7 linked regions of the Homo sapiens genome follow. The protein of the gene in region 1 purifies or fractionates together with the protein of each later gene. This does not show direct contact. Each region holds a gene or a part of one and is shown in the gene's direction. Other genes may lie near its edges.

Evidence for each region.
Region 2: the proteins of EFEMP1 (region 1) and ZNF136 purify together in Homo sapiens (affinity purification with mass spectrometry; 2 studies listed by BioGRID and IntAct, with this or other methods). This does not show direct contact.
Region 3: the proteins of EFEMP1 (region 1) and AZGP1 purify together in Homo sapiens (affinity purification with mass spectrometry; 2 studies listed by BioGRID and IntAct, with this or other methods). This does not show direct contact.
Region 4: the proteins of EFEMP1 (region 1) and ANXA2 purify together in Homo sapiens (affinity purification with mass spectrometry, with the first as the bait; one large-scale study listed by BioGRID). This does not show direct contact.
Region 5: the proteins of EFEMP1 (region 1) and POLR3G purify together in Homo sapiens (affinity purification with mass spectrometry; 2 studies listed by BioGRID and IntAct, with this or other methods). This does not show direct contact.
Region 6: the proteins of EFEMP1 (region 1) and ZNF358 purify together in Homo sapiens (affinity purification with mass spectrometry; 2 studies listed by BioGRID and IntAct, with this or other methods). This does not show direct contact.
Region 7: the proteins of EFEMP1 (region 1) and ZNF398 purify together in Homo sapiens (affinity purification with mass spectrometry; 2 studies listed by BioGRID and IntAct, with this or other methods). This does not show direct contact.

Annotation. Positions count from the first base shown.
Region 1 is NC_000002.12:55,871,783-55,875,282, reverse strand, and holds part of EFEMP1 (EGF-containing fibulin-like extracellular matrix protein 1 precursor), read left to right. Parts: intron 1-217; coding exon 218-337; intron 338-1,314; exon of another isoform or gene 1,315-1,400; intron 1,401-3,500. UniProt on the Homo sapiens protein: Binds EGFR, the EGF receptor, inducing EGFR autophosphorylation and the activation of downstream signaling pathways. May play a role in cell adhesion and migration. May function as a negative regulator of chondrocyte differentiation.
Region 2 is NC_000019.10:12,169,596-12,173,095, forward strand, and holds part of ZNF136 (zinc finger protein 136), read left to right. Parts: intron 1-3,500. UniProt on the Homo sapiens protein: May be involved in transcriptional regulation as a weak repressor when alone, or a potent one when fused with a heterologous protein containing a KRAB B-domain.
Region 3 is NC_000007.14:99,969,631-99,973,031, reverse strand, and holds part of AZGP1 (zinc-alpha-2-glycoprotein precursor), read left to right. Parts: intron 1-1,025; coding exon 1,026-1,286; intron 1,287-3,401. UniProt on the Homo sapiens protein: Stimulates lipid degradation in adipocytes and causes the extensive fat losses associated with some advanced cancers. May bind polyunsaturated fatty acids.
Region 4 is NC_000015.10:60,349,819-60,352,986, reverse strand, and holds part of ANXA2 (annexin A2), read left to right. Parts: intron 1-510; coding exon 511-604; intron 605-1,167; coding exon 1,168-1,263; intron 1,264-1,735; coding exon 1,736-1,794; intron 1,795-3,168. UniProt on the Homo sapiens protein: Calcium-regulated membrane-binding protein whose affinity for calcium is greatly enhanced by anionic phospholipids. It binds two calcium ions with high affinity. May be involved in heat-stress response.
Region 5 is NC_000005.10:90,491,864-90,495,363, forward strand, and holds part of POLR3G (DNA-directed RNA polymerase III subunit RPC7), read left to right. Parts: intron 1-3,500. UniProt on the Homo sapiens protein: DNA-dependent RNA polymerase catalyzes the transcription of DNA into RNA using the four ribonucleoside triphosphates as substrates.
Region 6 is NC_000019.10:7,514,896-7,518,902, forward strand, and holds the start of ZNF358 (zinc finger protein 358), read left to right. Parts: upstream 1-1,207; 5' UTR 1,208-1,354; intron 1,355-3,787; exon of another isoform or gene 3,788-3,810; intron 3,811-4,007.
Region 7 is NC_000007.14:149,174,953-149,178,452, forward strand, and holds part of ZNF398 (zinc finger protein 398), read left to right. Parts: intron 1-1,515; coding exon 1,516-1,629; intron 1,630-3,500. UniProt on the Homo sapiens protein: Functions as a transcriptional activator.

The DNA of each region.
Region 1 (3,500 bases):
AATAGGACAAGAAGCCAGATCTCTTTATATATATATAGGTAGATATAATTTTTCCTCCTTAAAATATAAATAATTTTAATTATATATAATTATTTTAATATAGATATTTTAAATCTTATAATTTATATATATATATAATTTATATATATATATATATCCAAAGTAGTGGTGCACAAACTTTTCAACTCTGTGTCCTTTCTCTTGTCTAATTCAACAGACATTGATGAATGCAGAACCTCAAGCTACCTGTGTCAATATCAATGTGTCAATGAACCTGGGAAATTCTCATGTATGTGCCCCCAGGGATACCAAGTGGTGAGAAGTAGAACATGTCAAGGTAAGTTTATTTTTTTTTTCATATGTTAGGTATTTAGTTTTAGCCAGGAAGAGACAAGAGGAAGTTATAGGATTCTCCTATAGACTTTCATTTTTCCCACTTTCAATATACAATTTAAGCTCTTTTTTCCCCTGTTCATCATAAAATATATACATCTCATAAAGAGGTGATTCTATGCTAATGCCGACATTTTTCGTCCTTAAAAGATAAATAATTTTAATAAAATATTGATATGTATTCTATGTAACCTACATCATCTCTTTGAGATACATCTTCAAATCATCCACTGGAAAAGATTCAGTTATTAAAATGTTTCACCTGTGAGTTTGAGTTTAGAGCATAAGCTCAATATGTGAGTTAAACATACCTCCATCCAGTCTTAGCCCTCTAAAACACAAGGATTATAAATTGCGTAAGAATGTAGGTGCTGAGAAAAGTCAGCCTAATATGTTGTAAAATATAGTTGAATATTTTAGAGAAAACTACTAGCCCCAAAATAGCTAATGACCTTGGGTCCAGTTTCAAAATAAACATTCAGATGATCTTCACACCTATACGTAAGTGGAAGAGGCAGCTCCCCACAATGGTATGATTTCAGAGTTTCTCAGGAAGATCTAAAAAAAAAAAGGACCCTACCTCCAATGTTGCATGTAGTTGAAAATTTTCTTAACAGGGAAAGGACTGTCAGATAAAACCAAAAACGTAGAAAATCCTGGAAAAGCTAGTACAAACACTTAAATTTACACAAAGCAACAAAAGAATGAAAAAATGACCAAACTTGACAGAAAACCTGTTTGAATCCCAGCTCCACTGTATTCAGTCTGCACAATCTTGAACAAATTATCAAACTACTCTGAGCCTCAGCTTCCTCATTTGGAAAAGGGAGTTGTGGGAATTTAGTGGAATAACATACATAAAAATAATTTGTAAACTATAAAGCTTGTACAGGTCAAGGTGTTTTTATGAAATTTACTTACCAATGTAAGTGACCAGTAGTACGTCTTCTGTAGAGAGTCCTTTTTAATCAGAGTTGGAGTGAAGGCACACAAGGACAATAAAGATCCTGTTAAGAAAAGAAAGATCAAGGAAAGGAGACACTGGGGATTCTCAGTCTATATCATGATTTTACAGGAAAATATTAACTTAGAGGAAATCCATTACCTGGGATTTTATAATAGGCACACAATTTTTCGACTAGACTCCAACCACTGAGTATGAGCATAATCAGAATGTAGTTCATTGCACAATGAACATCTTTATAACCCTTTCCAGGTTACTAGAGACTTTATAAATGTTAATTATGGGAAAACATTGCATTCCAATGATTTTACTTACTGAACCCTAATTGAGACTTTCAACATGCATATTACATGCAAGAAAATGTTAGCTAGTGGAATGTCTTAACAAATTTCTCTGGAGTCCTTCAAACAAATATCTATGTGTTTCTGATCAAAAATTGATTTGATGCTCAGCAAAAGACAGAAGCAGATTAATGCACGGTGGGATCCGACCTGCCTAGCCTATCTATGTGGAAACATTTATATCTATTGTAATTAAAGGTGGAAAATGCACCAAAATTGTAAGTGGGGGATTCCTAAATGTTATATATTGAAGATATGCAGCTTCAGAATGTTTGGTTAAGCCAAAACATTTTTTGTGAAAAAGACTTAGCATTCTTCTAAAGTATAAAGCAATTGCTTTCTCCTACGGAAATCGTTCCTTCTGAGCCTTGTCCACAGGAATAAAATGAAATTGAAAGTTTTGGATTCTTAACTTTCTCTAAAAGACTTATTTTGTGGATGAAATAACTGTTCTCATTTCACAGGCCTATACAAATGAAAACTGTGTGTGTGTGTGTGTGTGTGTGTGTGTGTGTGTGGAGAGAGAGACAGAGAGACAAAAGAATACACATACACATAGACACACACTCATCAAATATTTTGAGAGTATTAATTTCTGAAAAATCTTCCAGAATGATTAAGGTGATGATTATGCTAGGCTCTACATTAATGGAAGTAATAAATGAAATTATAAGGTTGTCTTTTGCTTCTGTTGGACTCCATATAACAAATAAGTATTAGTTTTCCCTGTACCTAAACAGCATCTTTATTCTTCAAAAAAGTGGAAAATACTGAAAGGATAAGTCAATTGTGATTTCATTTGAAGAATCTAAGTTTTCTTTCTTCAGCCATAGCCAGCCCAAGAAGACACTTTTTGTAACTGTCTCTTGGAGACTACCTAGCTTTCCCAGTCTGTTCTTGAGTTCCAGATAACTTTAGCCAGTTTGGAAGCTAAAATACTTTTTTTTCCTCCAAAGTCAAGGCATGAATTATTTAGAGTATATGAACTTGAATGAGCCACTAAACCCTTATTTGTTTTTCATCCATATCAAGTGGAAATATCTTTCTCACCTACCTCCACACAGTTTGTGTGAAGAGCAACTTAGTTCAATTTAATATTTCTTAAAAGCCAGATGCTCTATTGCATTAATGCTAGGTGATGAAAGGATTAAAAGATGGGTACAATAACCCTTGCCCTCAAGGAGTTTACAAGCTAATAGAAGGGTTAAGCTAGACATGCAGATTGCAATAATGCAAAGCAGAAAGCAATAAAGGCCCTTAAAAAAGAACACCGGGTATGAGAATTCAAAAGAGATCATATCCCAGCACCTAGCCCATGCTTGGCTTACAGCAAGGATTCAGTAAATTACTTATGGAATGAGTAAATTCATGAATAAAAATATCTCATTGTGGAGAAGGAATGATTCAGAAAAAGTTTACATTGAATAAAATATAAATCACTATTCAAATGTAAAGGGAGACAGACATAGAGATGTAGATATTAATTTTATTTTTATTGTTGTTGTTGTTGTTGTTATAAATGTAATGGCTCTCTAGTAAAACTGTTCTCTCAGATGTCATCTGGAGGCTTCTGATTCCCAAATTTAAAGTCAATCTTTGTCCAGCCTGAGGTAAACACAACCCTTCTTCCCAGGATTCTCTCTCCCTCTGACTTCTTTGGCATTGCCTTTTCCTGGGTTGTCTCCCTGCACTGACAGCCTCTTCCTTAACTTCCTCTTTTTCCTTACAGTCCTAAAATTGCTATGCTCTATGAGGTGGAACACTTCATAGTTTCACTTCCTGTGCTGTGCTTCCTCTGGACA
Region 2 (3,500 bases), on another chromosome or scaffold:
GTACTGATTCTGAATTTTTTTTTTTTTTTTTGAGACGGACTCTCGCTCTGTTGCCCAGGCTAGAGTGCAATGGAGCGATCTTGGCTCACTGCAAGCCCAGCCTCCCGGGTTCATGCGATTCTCCTGCCTCAGCCTACCGAGTAGCTGGGACTTACAGGCGCCCGCCACCACACCCGGCTAATTTTTTTGTATTTTTATTTTTATTTTTATTTTTTTTGAGACAGAGTCTCTCTCTGTCCCCCAGGCTGGAGTGCAGTGGCGTAATCTCGGCTCACTGCAAGCTCTGCCTCCCGGGTTGACGCCATTCTCCTGCCTCAGCCTCCCAAGTAGCTGGGACTACAGGCGCCTGCCACCACGTCCGGCTAATTTTTTGTATTTTTAGTAGAGACGGGGTTTCACTGTGTTAGCCAGGGTGGTCTCGATCTCCTGACCTCGTGATCTGCCCACCTTGGCCTCCCAAAGTGCTGGGATTACAGGCGTGAGCCACCACGCCCGGCCATTTTTTTGTATTTTTAGTAGAGACGGGGTTTCGCTGTGTTAGCCAGGGTGGTCTCAATCTCCTGACCTTGTGATTCACCCACCTTGGCCTCCCAAAGTGCTGGGATTACAGGCGTGAGCCACCGCGCCCGGCCTTTTGTGGTTTCTTTGCCTCAGTCCGTTGCACACATGCTGCTGTCTGAGGCTGTGGGTCACCCAGGTTACTAACCATTCCACTGCTTGATTTGAGTTGTTAGTATTTTATCTGTTGCCAATGTAATTGTTGTTTTTGTCTCCAAGTGCTAATGCTTCATAAACTTCTTTTTTTTTTTTTGAGGCAGGTCTTCTTCTGTTGCCCAGACTGAAGTGCAGTGGTGCAATCACAGCTCACTGCAACCTTGGCCTCCCAGGCTCAAGCAATCCTTCCATCTCACCCTCCCAAGTAGCTGGGACTACAGGCGTGTGCCACATGCCTGATTAATGGTTGTATTTTTTTATAGAGATGGGGTCTTGCCATGTTGCCCAGCACTCAAACCCTTGGGCTCAGCACTGGGATTATAGGCATGAGCCACTGTGCCCAGCCATGCTTCATAAATTTTTTTTTTTTTTTCGAGACGGAGTCTCGCTCTGTCGCCAGGCCAGGCTGGAGTGCAGTGGCGCGATCTCAGCTCACTGCAACCTCTGCCTCCTGGGTTCAAGTGATTCTCTTGCCTCAGCCTCCCAAGTAGCTGGGATTACAGTCACATGCCACCACACCCAGCTAATTTTTTTTTTTTTTTTGAGACGGAGTTTCACTCTTGTTGCCCAGTCTGGAGTGCAATGGCAAAATCTCAGCTCACTGCAACCTCTGCTTCCCAGGTTCAAGTGATTCTCCTGCCTCAGCCTCCAGAGTAGCTGGGATTATAGGCATGCACCACCACGCCCGGCTAATTTTGTTTTTTTAATAGAGACAGGGTTTCTCCATGTTGGTCAGGCTGGTCTTGAACTCCTGACCTCAGGTGATCTGCTTACCTTGGCCTCCCAAAGTGCTGGGATTACAGGCATGAGCCACTGCGCCAGGCCCCACCCAGCTAATTTTTTTTATTTTTAGTAGAGATGGGGTTTCACCATGTTGGCCAGGATGGTCTTGATCTCTTGACCTCGTGATCTGCCTGCCTCGGCCTCCCAAAGTGCTGGGATTACAGGTGTGTGCCACCGCACCTGGCTGCTTTGTAAGTTTTTTATACATTGGAAAAAAAAATCCCTGGGATGTAGCTTATAGATAGATTGACTTGGGAATGCCAATGGAATATATGGATTAACCATCTGACCATGTATGCATGTGTATTTACTCCTTATAAGTAGTTCTCTTTATTTTTCTCTGTGTGATTACATGTTGCTTTTTACACTAGGATTGAGCATTTTTTCTGTGTGGCCTTTCATCTTCTGTAAAATAGTTTTCAGTCATCTTGTCACATTAAAGTCATTTGTATATTTATTGCTTCATTTCTTCCCTTTTTTCTTTTTTTAACTTACTCTGTAGGCTAATTCTTTTTCATTTATAGGGATTGCTAATATTTTGTTCCAGGGAGTGATTTATCTTTTCACTCCATTCTACATTTTGATGGACTCTTAAATTTTTTTGTTTGTTGGCTTTTTTGGCCGCCTTCTGCATGCACCATCATCAAGGGTGGGGAAGGGTACTCTTCTTGATTTTAATTGAGTTGACTTTGGCTCTTCCTTTCAGGCCTACTTAATTTTCTTGTAAGAGAACATTCTAGAGAGTGTATATTTAGGGCAACTTGAATCTGTGCTCCCAGGTTAAATAAAGAACACTCTCCCTACTGTCAAGTTGGAAAAAAAATTGTAACTTATGAAAGTTTGCTACTTTTTAAAATTTTAAAATTTTTTATTTTCTCTCTCTCTCTTTTTTTTTTTTTTTTTGGAGACAGAGTCTCGCTCTGCCACCCAGGCTGGAGTGCAGTGGCATGATGTTGGCTCATTGCAGCCTTCGCCTCCTGGCGTCAGGTGTTTCCAGTGCTTCAGCCTTCCGAGTAGCTGGGATCGCAGGTGTGAGCCACCATGCCCGGCTAATTTTTGTAGTTTTAGTAGAGACAGGGTTCCTGACCTCAAGTGATCTACTTGCCTTGGCCTCCCAACATGCTGGGATTACAGACGTGAGCCACTGTGCCTGGCTGCTTTTGTTTTTAAGAGGTTTGTGTTTTTCTGATTTGATCTTGTTTATAGCTGGAGACTGGCTAAAACTTTATCCCTGTCCTGGTGTGGCTCTGGGGGATTTCTTGGAGGATATTTAAAATGTGCCTTTCAAGGGATATTTCTTCATTCTGTTGGAGGGCCTGATGCCTAGATGTTATACCCATGACCAGGTGTCCCTCTCACAGCACACTTGTTTATACTTGCTCTGTACAAGCAGGCACCTTGTAGATCTTGTCTGACCATTGTCAGTTTAATCCTAGACTAGAGTAGCCACTAATCCGGTATCTATTAGTGGCTAATAAACACTACCACTCTGTTCCTACCAAGAGAGCCCCGATTATGATAGTAGTTAGGTTCAAATAGTAGTCAGGTGTGTCAGTTAGGCAATTAGGTGAGACTCGGAGGAGACAATTCAACAAACACAGGAAATAACAGAAGGAGTTTATTACTTATAAATCCCAGAGGCCGGCTGTGGTGGCTCACGCCTGTAATCCCAGTACTGTGGGAGGCTGAGGCAGGCGGATCACGAGGTCAGGAGATCGAGACCATCCTGGCCAACATGGCGAAACCCTGTCTCTACTAAAAATACAAAAATGAGCTGGGTGTGATGGTGCGTGCCTGTAATCCCTGCTACTCGGGAGGCTGAGGCCAGAGAATCACTTTAACCAGGGAGTCGGAGGTTGCAGTGAGCCGAGATTGCGTCACTGCACTCCAGCCTGGCGACAGAGCCAGACTCCATCTCAAAAAAAAACAAAAAAATTCCCGGAGAGAGGAGAGTAGCATGTCTTGTAGGCCAGCAGGTAGGTGGAACTATTTGTGACACATAC
Region 3 (3,401 bases), on another chromosome or scaffold:
CATTCTCCTGCCTCAGCCTCCTGAGTAGCTGGGACTACAGGCACCCGCCACCATGCTTGGCTAATTTTTTGAATTCTTAGTAGAGACGGGGTTTCACCATGTTAGCCAGGATGGTCTCGATCTCCTGACCTCGTGATCCACCCGCCTCGGCCCCCTAAAGTGCTGGGATTACAGGCGTGAGCCACTGAGCCCGGACGAAATGTTAATTTGTTTTTTTTGAGACGGAGTCTCACTCTGTCATCCAAGCTGGAGTGCAGTGGCATGATCTTGGCTTGTTGCAACCTCTGCCTCTCTGGTTCAAGTGATTTTCCTGCCTCAGCCTCCAGCATGACTGGGATTACAGGCCCGCACCACCATGCCCAGCTAATTTTTGTATTTTTTAATAGAGATGGGGTTTCACCATGTTGGCCAGGCTGGTCTTCAACTCCTGATCTCAAGTAATCTGCCTGCCTTGGCCTCCCAAAGTCCTGGGATTACAGGCATGAGCCACGGAGCCCAGCCTAGAAATGTTAATTTCTAACGCATGTCAGATTCCATGCACACTGGGCAAGGTTCCATTCCTCCATGGGGTGACTCAGGGATCCAGGCCAATTGCATATTGAGACTCTTTCATATTATCCTGTGGCCTTCAAAGTCGTCACCTCTAGGGATGAGAAACAAAAGGGACAAGCCAGCTGGTAGGGTCTTGGACAAGAAGAAAGACATCACTTCTGCTCACATTCTCTTTTGACAAAACTCAGTCACATGGTCCCAATATATCTTCGAGGTGGCTGAGTAATGTTATCTTCCTATGTGTCAAGCAGAGGAAATAATGTAGTGAAGACACAGGATGGTCTCTGAAATATCATCTCAGGCATGAAAGTAGAGCATATTCACTTGAGTGAGCCTCCAGTGGTGTGAAGTTGATGGCAGGAGAAAGAGCTGGGGAAGAAAAGGCCAGTGGCAGGTCTCCCCTCCTAGCCCTATGCAGCCCCACAGTGGGACCCTTGCATGGACCTCAACCATCAGAATCTTTTCTTTTGCAGGTCGTTACTCTCTGACCTATATCTACACTGGGCTGTCCAAGCATGTTGAAGACGTCCCCGCGTTTCAGGCCCTTGGCTCACTCAATGACCTCCAGTTCTTTAGATACAACAGTAAAGACAGGAAGTCTCAGCCCATGGGACTCTGGAGACAGGTGGAAGGAATGGAGGATTGGAAGCAGGACAGCCAACTTCAGAAGGCCAGGGAGGACATCTTTATGGAGACCCTGAAAGACATCGTGGAGTATTACAACGACAGTAACGGTCAGTGAATAACAGACCACAGGGGTGGAAGGTCTAACCCAAGAGGCAGCCCCCCCAGTGTGAGTGGCAAGGGATCAGCAGGATGGAAATAGTCCCAATCCCAGGGGAAGAACAGGAGACACAGCAGAAACACAGACATGTCCACATCCCACCCACCCCACAGCACAGGTGCTCCCCGCTTCCCCATCAATTGCCCCATCCTCATCCCAGGCCTCAGGTCACACAGGAAGTGATGGCAGAGTCACTTCCTATCCAGGCACCTATGACCTCTCACCTCCACACCCCACCCATCGGAGGCTGATACCCCCGTGAGAAGGCATCAGACTCACCCCTGTCCAGGGAGGTTGCCTGGAGAGTGAGCCACTCTCAAAGTCACTCAGACCTGGGCTCACCTGGTGGTTCTGCCAGTCCTAGCTGTTGACAGTGAAACGTTCCCAAAATATCTGGTTGAAATCTGCAAACATTGGAGCACTGAGACCTACCTCCAAACAAGTCTGTAATATTTAACTATGTCTGTTCTATGAAGGATGTCACAGTCTGTCCTGATCTCCCTTGCAGCTCCATCACCTAGCACAGGGTACAGCCAATATTGGCTCAATTGAAATTTGTGGAATCAACAGAGAAAAGCACCCAGCACACACCGTAGCCCATGCTGGGGGCTCAGGAAGTGCTGGATTCAAAACTGTGGGCTGTTAGAGTTCCTTGGAGCCCTAAAGTTCCTCCTTACCATACGATGCAGACCCAGGAAGGGCCACCTGCGCTATGGTCAGAGGAGCTGGTGGCAGAGCCCGTGCAGAGATGGTCCCTGTGCCCCCGGCCCAGTGCTCTTTCTCCTAAACCACACTGCCAGCCCCAAGGCAGCCAACCTCAGGTCTGGTGAACTGCTGGTGTTAAATTATCATAGAGTGGGTGTCAAAAGATGGGCTACTAAGTACAAAAATGCCCAAGGTGCTACATGGGATCTGAAGATTTTCAAAAGGAGGCAAGAAAGAGATAGGCAGATGTTTCAAGGATGTGGGGTGGGGGAGGTCTTGGTAAGGAAAATGGCCCAGGCTGTGTGTCAGCAATAGGAGAGGAGGGGGCACAGGTGATCAGAAAAGACACTGGGGGAAGCATTGATGGACAGGAATAGAAATGGCAAAGTGGATAATTAAGAGGAAGGAGGATGAGGAGATGAACACAGGGTATTAGAAAATAATAGAAGGCAGGGCTTGGTGGCTCACTCTTGTAATCCCAGCACTTTGGGAGGCTGAGGCAGGCAGATCACCTAAGGTCAGGAGTTCGAGACCAGCCCGGCCAACATGGTGAAACCCTGTCTCTACTAATAATACAAAAATAGCCTGGCATGGTGGCACACGTCTGTGGTCCCAGCTACTCAGGAGGCTGAGGCAGGAGAATTGCTTGAACCCAGGAGGCAGAGGTTACAGTGAGCCAAAATCCTACCATTGCACTACAGCCTGGGTGACAAGAGTGAAACGTTGTCTAAAAACAAAAAACAAAAAACAAAAAAAGGAAATAATAGTAGCTGACATTTACTGAGCACTTACTTTGTGCCAGGCCCATCTATGAGCATATATAATGCTCAGAATAGCCCCCTAAAACAGTGCTCTTGGCATTGCCATTTCAGAGGTGAGGAAATAGAGGCACAGGGAGTTGAGTGGCTCCAGTTCAGGCAACACACCAGGTGGGGGTGGGGGGCTGGGGAGAGACCTGGGACGTGAGCCCAGACAGCTTGAGAGCTTTCAGAGTCTATGCCAACAGCACCAACCAGTGCTGGGTAAACACCTGCTTTTATCATCAGAACAAAGAGGCTGTGTCCCCTGCCCTATGAGGTCCATTTCTGAGAGTTGTGGCTAATGGGCAAGAAGGTTGGGGCTTTAGAGATTTGGGATAAAGATATCAAACACCAGAAAGGTAGAAAGAAGTGATCAGATTAGGGTTACTTAGGTGATGATATGAACTCTTCCTAGAACTGAGAGAAAAAGAGAGCCTTCCTTTACTCATATGAAATCACAAATAATTTCTATCCAATTTGGAAGTACACTTTGGTGTAGTTGTGACAGCTTCCTCAGGACTCAGCATAAATTCAAACAAATAATTGTCCTTAGAAGAGAT
Region 4 (3,168 bases), on another chromosome or scaffold:
ATTGTTAGGGCTACTTGTAGCCCCTAAATTTTCCAGAAACTGAAAGTGAGATGAGATGGGCTCCTTTTCCAGCTCCATCACTCCCTGAGTCTCTGAGAAGCTTGAGAATGAGAGCCTGGTCTGTAGCTGTCCAGTAAACATCTGCTAGCTTATCTGCCCCTAAATGTGCCCAAAGGGAGGAGGGCCAGATGTGTTAATGAACATTTACTTGTTCTTCTTTATATGAATACAAGCTCTTGGTCCCTCCTTTCTTATTCAAGGAAGGAGATTGTACAGCAGACCTCACGAACTATCTGCAGTCTCATATGGTATCCATCTGTGCCTAAGGAAGACTGCTTGTGATTAAGACTTTTGACCTAAATAGTAGGTCTCTGCCCATGTCTGCAGTATAATCATCTTTCCTCGTTTGGCATTTTGAATGTGTAGCTTTTTTTGTTTTTTTTGCATGACATTTTTTTTGACGTTACATTGGATGTGTAGTTAACTTTTCCTGGTTGGTTGTACTCGTAGGATCTCTATGACGCTGGAGTGAAGAGGAAAGGAACTGATGTTCCCAAGTGGATCAGCATCATGACCGAGCGGAGCGTGCCCCACCTCCAGAAAGGTGGGCACTGTGCTGAGGGAGTCTCAGTGCCTTGGGGCCCTGGCTGGGGCGGCTGGGTGGATGTCCATGTTGGGATGGAGTCTGCCAGAATGAGGTTCTGTCTCCGCTTGGCACTCTCATAGGCTCACCCATTTTCCCTCACCTTTCTCTCCCATTCTGGATTCTTTTCTCTTGCAAATAGTTTCTGCATTTGGTGCTTTATTCTGCAGCTCCTTCTTGTTTGATGATCATTTGGTCTTGCCATTATTTGTTGAAGTAGTGGACTTTGGTGCATGCTCTGTACTGTTTCCTATGGTTTTCGGATGGAATGGGTTCCACTCAGGGGAGATAGAGATGGTCCAAATATGTGGCCTGGGCAGTGCCATTCAGGACAGGTGGTATGGCTGTTCCACGACAAACTTGGCCAATGTTGGCTCTGGTCACCGTGGTAACCTCTAAGCTCCTAGGATGCTGTGATCATCCTCAATTTTTAAAAAAATTATGGTGCATAAAACTAGGTGGGTGATCGTTGACAGCTTTGACTAGTGGCTCGGATCTGATAACTCTTTGTTGTTTTTCCTCAGTATTTGATAGGTACAAGAGTTACAGCCCTTATGACATGTTGGAAAGCATCAGGAAAGAGGTTAAAGGAGACCTGGAAAATGCTTTCCTGAACCTGGGTAAGTGAATGTGGCCCCCATTCCTGGTAGACATCAGCTACCAGAGCAGAAGTGACAGATGGCCATCCTGTTAATCCAAATGTGTTTGGGAGGTGTGGCTTCTATGCATGCTTTGGATAGTTTTACAGTCTTAATTGTATAGATTTCAGAATATAAAACTGAAGAAAGGCCTAACTTGGTAACAGATTGTTGCCAGGGAGGAGTAAGAGAACAGGAGGAGAGAGGGGTGTGTTGTGGAAACTCACGTATGCACTTGGGTTCTGCAGGCCTCAGAGACCCCTGGTTTAAAACCGTGGTGGAACTTAGTATTGCAGAGGATTTCTAGATTTCCCTTAGCCTGTCCTATTTTGCAGCCCTTTTCCATTGCATTAGGTCACTTCTGGTTTGTGGCCCAGGGCCAGGGCATCCTCTCTCATTGGTAGAGGAGAGACCAGAGCAGCTGCAGCGCTGACTCCCTTTCTTCTCTCCACAGTTCAGTGCATTCAGAACAAGCCCCTGTATTTTGCTGATCGGCTGTATGACTCCATGAAGGTAAGGGCAGCTGGCTGAGAGAGCTGTGTTTCCACACTCAGCTTTTCTTCTTTTGGGTCCCAAATTGAGTCTCCTTGATTCATGGATGGAGGAAGGGGACCCCACTGTGTGGATGCAGGAACACACTAGTCAGCTGTGGTTGTATGTGACAGCTGAGAGAACCACAAATCTGTCTTCTTTCTCTCAGCTGCTTGAACATGTATTTGCGTACAGACAAAAAGTAAAGTGCCATGGGAGAGAGAAAATGCGACATGGTAGTCGTGTCTGATCCCTGCTTAGGTTTCTCCGTGATTTCTTCCTGTTACTGCCAGAGTCAAGACAAGCGAGGAAGGGAGCGATTATTAAGCACCCACTATACAGTGGACAAGTGCTACTATTTTACCTTAAATCATTGCATAACAACCTCTGAGGCTTATGATTATCTTCTTTATAAATGCAGAGATGGAGCTCAGAATACCTCAGCCTGCTTGAAGTTACACAGACAGATTTGAACCTGGGTCTATCAGACCCCAAAGACAGCCCCACAACCCTTCCCTAAACGAACCACCTCTTCCCGTAGACCCATCCCATTTTCTACACCTCAAGTGTGCCATGTGTTTTCTGGCTTCTAGGCTTTTGCATTTTCCTTCTGGAACATCTCCCTTGTCTGTGCTGCCTCTGCCATCTGTCTTTGAGTTCCATATCAAATAGCACCCCTTGGTGCCTTCGCTCTGATGCTCTGGAAGTAAACTCAGTGGTCTTTATTGCACATATCATTAGAAATGGCACAGAGCGATGATAGAAATGTGTTGGCATGTTCCCTCTAAGCCTGCAAGAGTCAGGAACCTCTTGTTACATATGGAGACTCAGACTGCTTGAACTGAGCCTTGCAGTAGTAGGTGCTCAGTATATATTTATTGAATGGTGGCATAGAGTGGGAGTCTGTGCTGACTACAGCCTGGTGTGTTTGGAATTCCCAGATGCTCTTCTTTCTTTTCTTTTCTTGTCTTGTCTTTTTTTTTCTTTCTTTTTTCCTCCCTCCCTCCCTGCCTTCCCCTGCCTCCCTGCCTTCCCCTCCCTCCCTGCCTTCCCCTCCCTCCCTGCCTTCCCCTCCCTCCCTGCCTTCCCCTCCCTCCCTGCCTTCCCCTGCCTCCCTGCCTTCCCCTCCCTCCCTGCCTTCCCCTGCCTCCCTGCCTTCCCCTCCCTCCCTGCCTTCCCCTGCCTCCCTGCCTTCCCCTCCCTCCCTGCCTTCCCCTGCCTCCCTGCCTTCCCCTGCCTCCCTGCCTTCCCCTGCCTCCCTGCCTTCCCCTGCCTCCCTGCCTTCTCCTGCCTCCTTGCCTTCCCCTGCCTCCCTGCCTTCACCTCCCTCCCTTTCCTTCCCCTCCCTCCCTTTCC
Region 5 (3,500 bases), on another chromosome or scaffold:
AATAAATTATCACTATTATGTCATCATATAGTTTTCCTATGGTGTTGTCCAAAGCATTACATCTGTTTTTTAAGAAGTTATAAAGTCTTCAGAGACTCTTATGTTTGTAGTTGCTCTGTTTTAATTTTCATTTAATACAATTGAAAATTTCAAAAATTTTTAATTTTTTGCTCATAATGTCTAAAATTGACAGAAAAACATGTTCCACAATTCTTAGACGAATCAGAAGTCAAATGCAAAGAGATAGATAGCTCTCTGGATGCTCATGATGATGATGAAATTGATTGTATAAGCAAAATCTCAGACTGTGAGTCTTCAGATGACAGTGTCTTCAATGAATTTTCTCAAATTCAAGAATCAATGAGTAAACACTGTATCTCCAAGAATTAAAAAGGAATTATGGTGGCCTTCTACAGTCAATCTTTGAAAAAGAACTCATCATGTAATACTTTGTAACAAAAACCTGGAACATCCTGTTTGCTAAAATGAGACGATCATTTTTGTTCTATGATATTTGTGCACCAAAATTAATTTGATGTGTTTTGTAACTGACAAATGCTGAACATAAAGGCAAAGACAACAATGATTGAAAGGAAATTGATTATATAGACATGAAATTGTTTTCTGGATTGATTGTGTTAACTGGTGATTATAAATTTAATAATGAAAATATTTTGCAAGTATAGAGCAAAGAAGATGGCTGGGCCATCCTCTCTTCAATAGAAGTATGAGACATCAGCCGGGCGCAGTGGCTCACCCCTGTAATCCCAGCACTTTGGGAGTCTGAGGCAGGTGGATCACGAGGTCAGGAGATCAAGACCATCCTGGCTAACATGGTGAAACCCCGTCTCTACTAAAAATACAAAAAATTAGCCAGGCGTGGTAGAGGGCACCTGTACTCCCAGCTACTCGGGAGACTGAGGCAGGAGAGTGGAGTCAACCTGGGAGTGAGCCGAGATTGTGCCACTGCACTCCAGCCTGGGCAAGACTCCGCCTCAAAAAAAAAAAAAAAAAGTATGAGACATCAAAGTTTTTTAAAGTATTGCATTTTGGATATGTAAGTACAAGAAGAAGAATTGGAAGTAGTGATAAGCTAGATTCTACTAGAAATGCATTTATAATCTGAAATTATTTAGATGATACACATATGAGAAAACCAGAGGAAATTATAAGTTAGAACCTATTAAAGATGTCTTTGGAATCTGGGATCAGGACGTACAGAAGGCATATATTCTAGGTTTGTATGTGGCAGCCGATGCACAGAAAACTGCATTCAAATGACTTTGCCCATTTTGGTTAAATTTACCTTCAAAATCAGTAAAACATGTAATATAAATTTGGATTTGCTATACTTAATTGCTTAGTAAAATCTCCAATAACTTTATTTATTTATTTTTATTTGAGACAGGATCTCGTTCTGTCACCCAGGCTGGAATGCAGTGGCATAATCTCAGCTCACTGCAGCCTCCACCTCCCAGGCTCAAGTGATCCTCCCACCGTAGCCTCCCAAGTAGCTGGAACCACTGGCATGAGCTACCATGCCCAGCTAATTTTTGCATTTTTTGTAGAGATGGGGGTTTCACCATGTTGCTCAGGCTGGTCTCGAACTCCTGGACTCAAGGGATCCAGCTGCCTTGGCCTCCCAAAGTGCTGGGATTACATCCTGAGCCACTGTGTTGGGCCTAGTTTTATTGATTTTTAAGTAACAGCTTTACTGAGACATAATCCACTATATAAAATTTACTTTTTAAAGTGTACAATTCAGTGACTTTTAATATAGCCACAGAGTTGTGCAATCAACACCACTATTTAATTTTTTTTTTTTTTTTTTTTTTTTTTTTTTTTTTTTTTTTTTTTTTTTGAGACAAGAGTCTTGCTCTGTTACCCAGGCTGGAATGCAGTGGCATTATCTCAGTTCACTGCAACCTCCACCTCCTGGATTCAAGTGATTCTCTTGCCGCAGTCTCCCAAGTAGCTGGGATTACAGGCACGTGCCACCACACATGGCTAATTTTTTTGTGTTTTTAGTATAGATGGGGTTTCACCATGTTGGCCCGGCTGGTCTTGAACTCCTGACCTATTAGCAATCTACCTGCCCCAGCCTCTCAAAGTGCTGGGATTACAGGTGTGAGCCACTGTGCCCAGCCACTATCTAATTTTTTAGATGCTTTTCATCATCTAGAAAAGAAATTCTGTACCCTTTAGTAGTCATTCCCTACTCTCCCTCCTTCCAACCCATGGCACCAGAAATCTGCTTTCTGTCTCTAGAGATTCCATGTCATATAAATGGAATGATGTAACATGTGTCTTTGGCTTCTTTCACTTGCCATAATGTTTTCAAGGTTCATTCATGGCTTAGTACATATGAGTGCTTCATTCCTTTTTATGGCTGAATAATATTCCACTGTATGGATATATGCCACATTTTGTTTATCCACTCATCACTTGATGGGCATTTGGGTCAGTTCACTTTTGGGATTACATGAGTTATCTTGTCATAAACATTCATGTACATGTTTTATGTGAAGACATGTTTTCATTTATATTGGGTATATACATAGGATCATATGGTAACTCTGTATTTCACATTTTGAGGAACTGCCAAACAGTTTTCTAAAGTGGCCACCCGATTTTACATTCCCATCAATAATGTATGAGAGTTCCAATTTTTCCATATCCTTGCCAACATTTCTTATTTTTTTTTTATTCTAGCCATCCTAGTGGTTGTAACACAGTATCTCATTGTGGTTTTGATTTGAATTTCCGTAATGATTGGTGATGTTGGACATCTTTTCATGCTTTTTGTCCATTTTTGTATCTTCTTTAGAGAATTGTCTATTCAAATCCTTTACCTCTTTTTAATTGGGTTCCAATAATTGGTTTTCAATATCTGTTCTTTTATCTGTTATCTTTTTTATTTATTCTCTGTATTTCATTATTTGAAATTAACTTAAAAATATTTTAAAATATAAAAAGTGGTCTACTGTACCCAGAGAAAAAGGGTAAAAACTGTTTTTTTCCGGTATACTGAGGGTTAAAATTATTTAAAATATGGAAACTGTTTTGGAGAAAATTCTTAAAAAGAAGTCATTGTGTTACAAATTCTAGGAATCTCTCATTTGTGCTGACTTCGTTTTATAGATTAAAAACTTGGCAAGATTAGTTAAAACATTTTACCTGAAGTCAAACAGTTAAAATACCTAGAAAAACCTGATCTCTTGGTCTCTGATCTACTACTTATTTTGGTTATCTTTCTCTAATACGTGGTTGTATTATTTGGAAGCATATACTTGACATAGAAGAAAAATCAGTATATATTTGGTCCTTGATTTTTATCCATTCATCTTTAGTATTACCTTCCCTTTTTCATGCCTAACTCCTGAACTACTTTTTATGATGAACATGGCTTCAAGCTTTTGTGTGATAGTGTTGCTTTCCAACTTGTGCTGCTGGAAAAGAGTTTGTGCCCTCCTTAAGGGTGTTTCTTGTGATAAGGTGGA
Region 6 (4,007 bases), on another chromosome or scaffold:
GCTGGGATTACAGGCATGAGCTACCGCACCCAGCCTATACTGGGTGGTTTTACAGAGAATTACTAGGGTGGTATTGTCGGGAACCTGGGAGCGCTTTGCTGACTAGGTATTTCAGTGATTTTTGTCTCAGAGGTGGGAGGATGGCAGTTGGGTTGGAATTGTCGTCGGTAAGAAGTGGCAGTCATTTGTGTTCACTTGGAGAGGGGGATGAGAACTCATTTTTGTGGTTGCACAGGGCCCATGTCTCTATCTTGGTTCAGACATGGTCACAGAGTGGCCTTGCCTCATCATTGTTTATATTCTGTGACCATTGTTTATATTTAGTGGAGAACATCGCGGCCCAGCCATCAGGAGCTGATTTCCACTCTCTCTCCTGGCTGGCAGCGGGGATCTGTGTCTCCAAGGAAAGTTTGCCCCGAGCCCTTCCCGGCCCGGCGTAGGGTTCTCCGGAAACCATCACTCACATCTAGCACTTGGAGGCCTCCAGGGACAGCGGTGACCCACCATCTGGGTAGGAGGCTGAAAACACTAGAGGAGGAATATCCCAAATCTGTGCCTTGGCGGGTGTTACCCAGAAAGGGTGACGGGTTTCACCATGCAAAAAGGAAAAATTGGAGGAAGGCCAGGTTAAGCAAAAATAGACATGTTTTTAGATTGCAGAGCTGAGAGGCTTGGCTGTGCCTATGTGCGCTGCAAGTCTCCAAGAACAACATGTGTAGAGTTTTACGAACAAAGATAGAGTCAGAGACATGGGCAGGAGGCAGAGACAGAGAGAGAGAGACAGACAGACACAGAGAGAGATAGAGGCAGAGAAAGCAACAGAGGCAAAGAGATTGGAACACAGAGAAAGAGATGGGGACAGAGACACAGAGAAAGGAACAGAGATGGGAAGACAGGGACAGAGACAGAGAATGAACAGAGATAGAGAGATAGGGACGGAGAGAGACAGAGAGAGGGACAGGGATGGAGAGAAAGAGATAGGGCCAGGGCCACAGAGGGACTGAGACAGGCCCAGGAGGAGACTAGGGATGGGGCCAGGGCTGCGTGCGGGCGGGGCACGGTGCAGACAAAGGCGCGGCCGCGCGGTCGGGGTGGCCTGGCCGGGGACAAAGGCCTGCCCGGGGGGCGGGGGCAGCGATGGCGACGGCCGCGGCGGGCGCGGGCGAACTACAAGTCCCAGCAGCTCCCGCTGCGGCCCTCGGCCGGCCCCTCTCGCTCCCCGGGAGCGCCTGGCGGGGCCGCTGGGCCGAGGGGGCCGCCGGCGGGGCTGGCGGGCGGGGGGCTTCCTGCGGGCCCGGGGGGAGCCGGCGGCCGGCGCGGGCGCGGCGGGCCGGGCAGGGGCGAGGGGCGCCGGGTGAGTGTCCCTGCGAGCGGGCTGGGGCCGGGGCGGGGGGCTGGGTGGGGGGCGGGCGGGCGGGGGAGCTCCAGGCGCGGGGCGCAGCCCGGGGCGACCTCTAATCGTCCCCCGCCCTGCGCGCCGCCGGCCCTGGCCCAGGCGAGCGGGGGTCGCGGGAGCGATGGGGAGGGGACTCTGCGGCCAGCTCCGGCCTAGCGCACCCATCCCGCCGCTGGGGCCCGGGGGGAAAGGGCCAGGAGGTTGGGAGCCTTCAATCGGGCGGGGTGGGGGGCGCCCGCCAGCTCTGGGGTCTGGAGCTCAGGACGCCCCCTCCCTAGGAGGCGATCCAGGACCCCCTCCCCTCCTGATTCGAGGTATTGTTCCCACCTCCCGCCTGGGGTCTGGAGTTCAGGAGGCCCTGTCCTCAAAAGGGGGACCTAGGGGTTCCCTCTTCCCCCAGGACCCTAGGAAGGGTCCCAGCGATTGTTCCCTTGCCCCTCCAGTCTTGGGGTCTGCAGTTCTGGAAGCTCCTTTCCCTGGAGGTGATCCAGGGGTCCACCTGCCCTCACCCCTGGGAACTCAGGAAAGACTTAAGTGATTTCTCCTCCCACCTTCCAGTTAAGAGATGGGAATTCAGGGGGCTCCTTCCCCTGGAGGCAATCTAAGGGTTCCTCTGCCCCTGATGCAGGAGGGGTCCCAGGTCTTGTTTCCCCCACTCTCCAACTATGGGGTCTGGGTTGAGGACCGCCGTCCAGGAACTCGGCTCTGTTTGCCTGCACACTCCCAGCTATGGGGTTGTGGCTCAGTGTATTCCTTTCCCCAGAAGGGGAGCCACAGGTCCCCCCACAGCTTCTCCCAGGAGCAGATCATTCATTGTTGACACCTCAACACCCAGCCATGGGGTGGGGAGCTCAAGGCATCCTCCCGGCAGGTCATCCTGGGCTCCCATTGCTCCCCAGAAGTGGTTCCAGCTTTTGTCCCTCTACCTCCCAGTCTGCCCCTAGCCACAAGCTGGCAATTCAGTTCAGGATCCTTCCTGCAGGAAGGGCTACAAGTGTGCTGACACTACCCGCCATGTCCCAGCCATGGGAGGAGATGACTCAGGCGTTCCCCCATTAACTTCAGAGGGTCCCCAGGTATTATTTTTGCCTATCCTCCAGCTAGAAGTTAAAATGCAGGACCTTCTAGCCAATAGGGAAAACAGGTATACTGGCCGGGCATGGTGGCTCATGCCTGTAATCACCATACTTTGGGAGGCTGAGGTGGGAGGATCATTTGAGCCCAGGAGTTTGAGTCCAGCCTGGGCAACATACCAAGACCCCATCTCAAACATAAATAAATAAATAAAACAGGTATACTAACAACTGTCCCCACCATCCTGCCTATGGGGTTCATGAGTCTCCCTACCCATCCCTCCTCACCAGGAGGGGTCCCAAATATCACTCTACCATGCTCACTATCTGGCTGTAGGAAAGGGCATTTCCGATCTGTCTAAGAGAGAGGATTTGACACTGACTCCCACCTGGAGCTGTGAGCTCTGGAATTCAGGTTTTCTTTTCCCCAGAGGGCAAGCCAGAGTCTTCTTGTCTTTCCCCAGTGACTTGGGAGGGATACCTGATGTTATTTGTTCCATATTCTTATCCCCCAGACATGGGTTCTAGAGCTCAGAATGCTGCTGCTGGAGGGGGGCCTCCCTACCAGAACTCGCCCCCTAAATTAATCTGCCGCCTCCAAGTATGGGACAAGAATTCAGGCCATGTGCTCAGGAGCACAGAAACGCTGACACCCACACTGTTCCCCATGTGGGGACGCCCAGCAAGGGGGTAGGAAGCTAGGACTGTCTCCTCCACAGGACCCCAGCTTCCCACAAGAGGAGCCCAGGTTGGAGAGAGGTGCAGAGCCATGGAGTTGGGGACTAGAAACCTCTAGTGCTGGGTCTCATGACCTCCGTCCAGGTTTGGGGCTGAGAGGGGAGGGTCCTACCATGTCCCACCTGGTTCCCTCAACTCCCTGCCCTGGCTGGGGTAAGTCAGAAATCTCCTTGCAGTCAGAGACAAGGGAAGGATCCACGTGTATGCTCAGAAGTGAGTGGGGTTTGGCCAGGCACAGTGGCTCATGCCTGTAATCCCAGCACTTTCTGAGGCCAAGGCCAGAGGTTTGCTTGAGTCCAGGAGTTTGATACCAGCCTGGGCAACATAGCGACACCCCATCTCAAAAAAGAGAGACAGAGGGAGAGAGAAAGGAAAGAAGGAAGGAAAGAAGGAAGAAGAGAGAGAAGGAAGGAAAAGAAGGAAGGAAGGAAAGAAAGAAAGAAAGAGAGAGAGAGAGAAAGAAAGAAAGAAAGAAAGAAAGAAAGAAAGAAAGAAAGAATTGAAGTTAGCTGAGTGTGGTGGTGCATCTGTAATTCCAGCTACTTGAGAGGCCGAGGTGGGAGGATCGCTTGAGCCCGGGAGTTCCAGTCTGCAGTGAGCTATGTATGATCACATCACTGCACTCTAGCCTGGGTGACAGAGTGAGACCCCATCTCAAAAAAATAAAAATAAAGAAGTGGGGCTGGGCGCGGTGGCTCACGCCTGTAATCCCAGCACTTTGGGAGGCTGAGGCATGCAGATCACCTGAGGTCAGGAGTTTGAGACCAGCCTGTCTAACATGCTGAAATCCCATCTCTACT
Region 7 (3,500 bases), on another chromosome or scaffold:
ATGTGTATAACATCTGGAAGAGAACAAAGATAAGATTGGACTATGTTTAATACACTTCAGCTTTTCTTTTAGGTCAGAACAGGAGGTTGGCAAGGCAACTGTTGCATATGCTAAAATCTATTTCCCAAATCGCTCCCCATAACCGATGGTCGTTTGGGCTTTCGTCTTACCCCAGCCTCTTATTTCTGCTTTGAGAACACCTTTAGATTTCAGTGGCGTCTAACTGATTTAGAAGACATTGGGTAAAGTAGTCAGTTCTGTTAATTTGCTGTGAATTAAACCATATTCTGCCCACAAGGCTGTGTTTGAGAAATAACTATAGAGAGCTTCAGGGGACTCTCTGGAGCTTGACAAGCTCTCTTGTCAGCTTGCCAACTTGTCCATTTAGTCCAAAAAAAAAAAAATAATAAAGCCATATAGGCCTAGGTTGTAATAGCTAGCACAGCTGTTTTGGTACTGATCAGATGAGGCATGTTGTGTGCAAAGCCGATATTGGCTGTGCACTTTTTCTTTCAGAAAGAACCCCCAAGACCTGAAGGACTTGCCAATACTATATTCTTCCCCCTCCCAGCATTTAGGAAACAATGACTTGTATCATTTAATAGACAAAGATAATATATCTCATAGAAAGAGCCCAGAATTGGGAATCTGAAAAGTGTGTTTCTAGGGAGTTGGATTCTGTGTCTATACTGAACTAACTTTGTAATTCTGGAAGTTGATTTGTTTTTTGTTTGTTTGTTTGTTTTGAAATGGAGTTTTTTTGCTCTTGTTGCCCAGGCTGGAGTGCAATGGTGCGATCTCGGCTCACTGCAGCCGCTGCCTCCCAGGTTCAAGCAATTCTCTTGCCTCAGTCTCCTGAGTAGCTGGGATTACAGGCGCCTGCCACCACGCCTGACTAATTTTTTTTATTTTTAGTAGAGACAGGGTTTTGCCACGTTGGTCAGGCTCATCTTGAACTCTTGACCTCAAATGATCCACTTGCCTCGGCCTCCCAAAGTTCTGGGCTTACACGCGTGAGTTACCACACCCATCCTGTATGCATTTTTTAAAAGGCTGGTTCTGTGTTATTGTTATAGTTATTTAGAAATAAATATTTGGGGCCGGGCGCGGTGGCTCAAGCCTGTAATCCCAGCACTTTGGGAGGCCAAGGTGGGCGGATCATGAGGTCAGGAGATCGAGACCATCCTGGCTAACACGGTGAAACCCCATCTCTACTAAAAACAAAAAAATTTAAAAAAAACTTAGCTGGGCGTGGTGGCAGGCGCCTGTAGTCCCAGCTACTCGGGAGGCTGAGGCAGCGGGGAGAATGGCTTGAACCTGGGAGGCGGAGCTTGCAGTGAGCCATCGTGCCACTGCACTCCAGCCTGGGTGACAGAGCGAGACTCTGTCTCAAAAAAAGAAAAAAAGAAAGGAAAAATATTTGGGGCAAAATATAGTGTTCAGCAAACCAACTTGATTATCTTACCTTCTTATTCAAGTTCATGAAGGCCATTTTTTTTTCCTCCCACAAATTAGAGCCTGGTATTTCAACATCAGATATTCTGTCTTGGATTAAACAAGAAGAAGAGCCTCAGGTTGGGGCCCCACCGGAGTCCAAGGAGAGTGACGTGTACAAAAGCACTTATGCTGGTGAGTATGAAATTAAAGAGGTGTTCATGTCCATATCCAGCTCATGCCAGGACTGACTGAAGAAACAGCAGGTGAAATTTGTAGAGGCAAATATGTGGGAGAAGAATGAGGGAAAGAAAAAGCCATGCTCAACATTATGAATGAAACCAAACAGTCACTAAGATAAATTTGAAGTGAGTGAGAAAATACACTCTTACATGCAAAGACAAATGAGAATTGTCAGAAGAAGAAAAACAAGTGCATACAGACGAACCAAAATTATGGGGATGGGGAAAGACAGAAGACGATTTGAAAATCATGTAGAAAGGGTAGAAAACGTGGGAGTGGGGTGGGGAGACAAGCCCTGGAGACAGAAATGGCCATGGAGAGGTGTAAATGGGAATGTTAATTAAGAGCCCTCCCTCAGTGAAAGGAAAATCAATGATGGGAGAAGAAATATAAGTATCTTCCTTCTAAGATACTTTTGCCATTTGTATTGTAGAAGAGAATCTCAAGATCAGAAGGGTCCCAGTCATTTATACAGCTTAATGCATTCTGTTTTTTTTTTAGTATTTTCTGTGCTCTGTGTTCTTTTAGACTGGGAAACACAAATGAAACATAAGATAGTTTTAGCTCTTGAAAAAACTTATGCTAGGGACATACATATCAGTACTAGGCAAGCCTGTTAAGTGTCAAGGATGAGTGGGGTGGACGACTTATATAAATGAATGAGAAGTTTCAGGAACATGCATCAGGTTTGGCTTGGTGACTCGTGCCTGTAAGCCCAGCATTTTGGGAGGAGGTTGAGGCAGGTGGATCACTCGAGCCCAGGAGTTCAAGACCAGCCTGGGTAACATAGGGAGACCCTGTCTCTAAAAAAAAGGAAAATATGCATCAGTTTTAGTTTAGGTATTTAGATAAGACCTAAAGAAGGGCATAAAGCCACAATTGTACCTTAAAAGATTGGTATGATATGGCTGGGTATAATTTGGAAAGATGGGGAGAGAGGGGTAGCATTCTACAAAAGGGAGGACAGAGTAAGTCAAGATGCATAGCAGAAATGTATACTCTGTTCTCAGGGGAAGTAAAGAGACAGCTGACCACAGTGATGGGTTGATCTGATAGAATACAGAGAAATAGGAATAGATAATTATGTGATTTTAGGCTTTGTCACAACAGGCAATAGAGAAAGTTCTTGAGTAGAGGTAAAATATAGTGAAAGTAACGTTGGGAAGATTGATGCCAAGGATTTTCTGTTTCTTAACAGATAGCATAGAAGAGGTACAGTGTTAAATTTTCTGATGAGGGCTGGGTGTGGTGGCTCATGCCTGTAATCCCAGCACTTTGGGAGGCTGAGGCAGGTGGATTACTTGACACCAGGAGTTCGAGACCCCTGGTCAATATGGCAAAACCCCATCTCTACTAAAAATATAAAAATTACCTGAGCACAGCTGGACGCGGTGGCTCATGCCTGTAATCCCAGCACTTTGGGAGGCCGAGGTGGGTGGACCATGAGGTCAGGAGATCGAGACCATCCTGGCTAACACAGTGAAACCCTGTCTCTACTAAAAAGACAAAAAAATTAGTTGGGCGTAGTGGCGGGTGCCTGTAGTCCCAGCTACTCGGGAGGCTGAGGCAGGAGAATGGCGTGAACCCGGGAGGCGGAGCTTGCATTGAGCCGAGTTTGTGCCACTGCACTCCAGCCTGGGCGACAGAGCGAGACTCCGTCTCAAAAAAAAAAAATTACCTGAGCACGGTAGTGCATGCCTGTAATCCCAGCTACTCAGGAGGCTAAGGCAGGAGAATCACTTGAACCCAGGTAGTGGAGGCTGCAGTGAGCTGAGGTCACGCCACTGTACTCCATCGTGGGCAACAGAATGTGATCCTGTCAT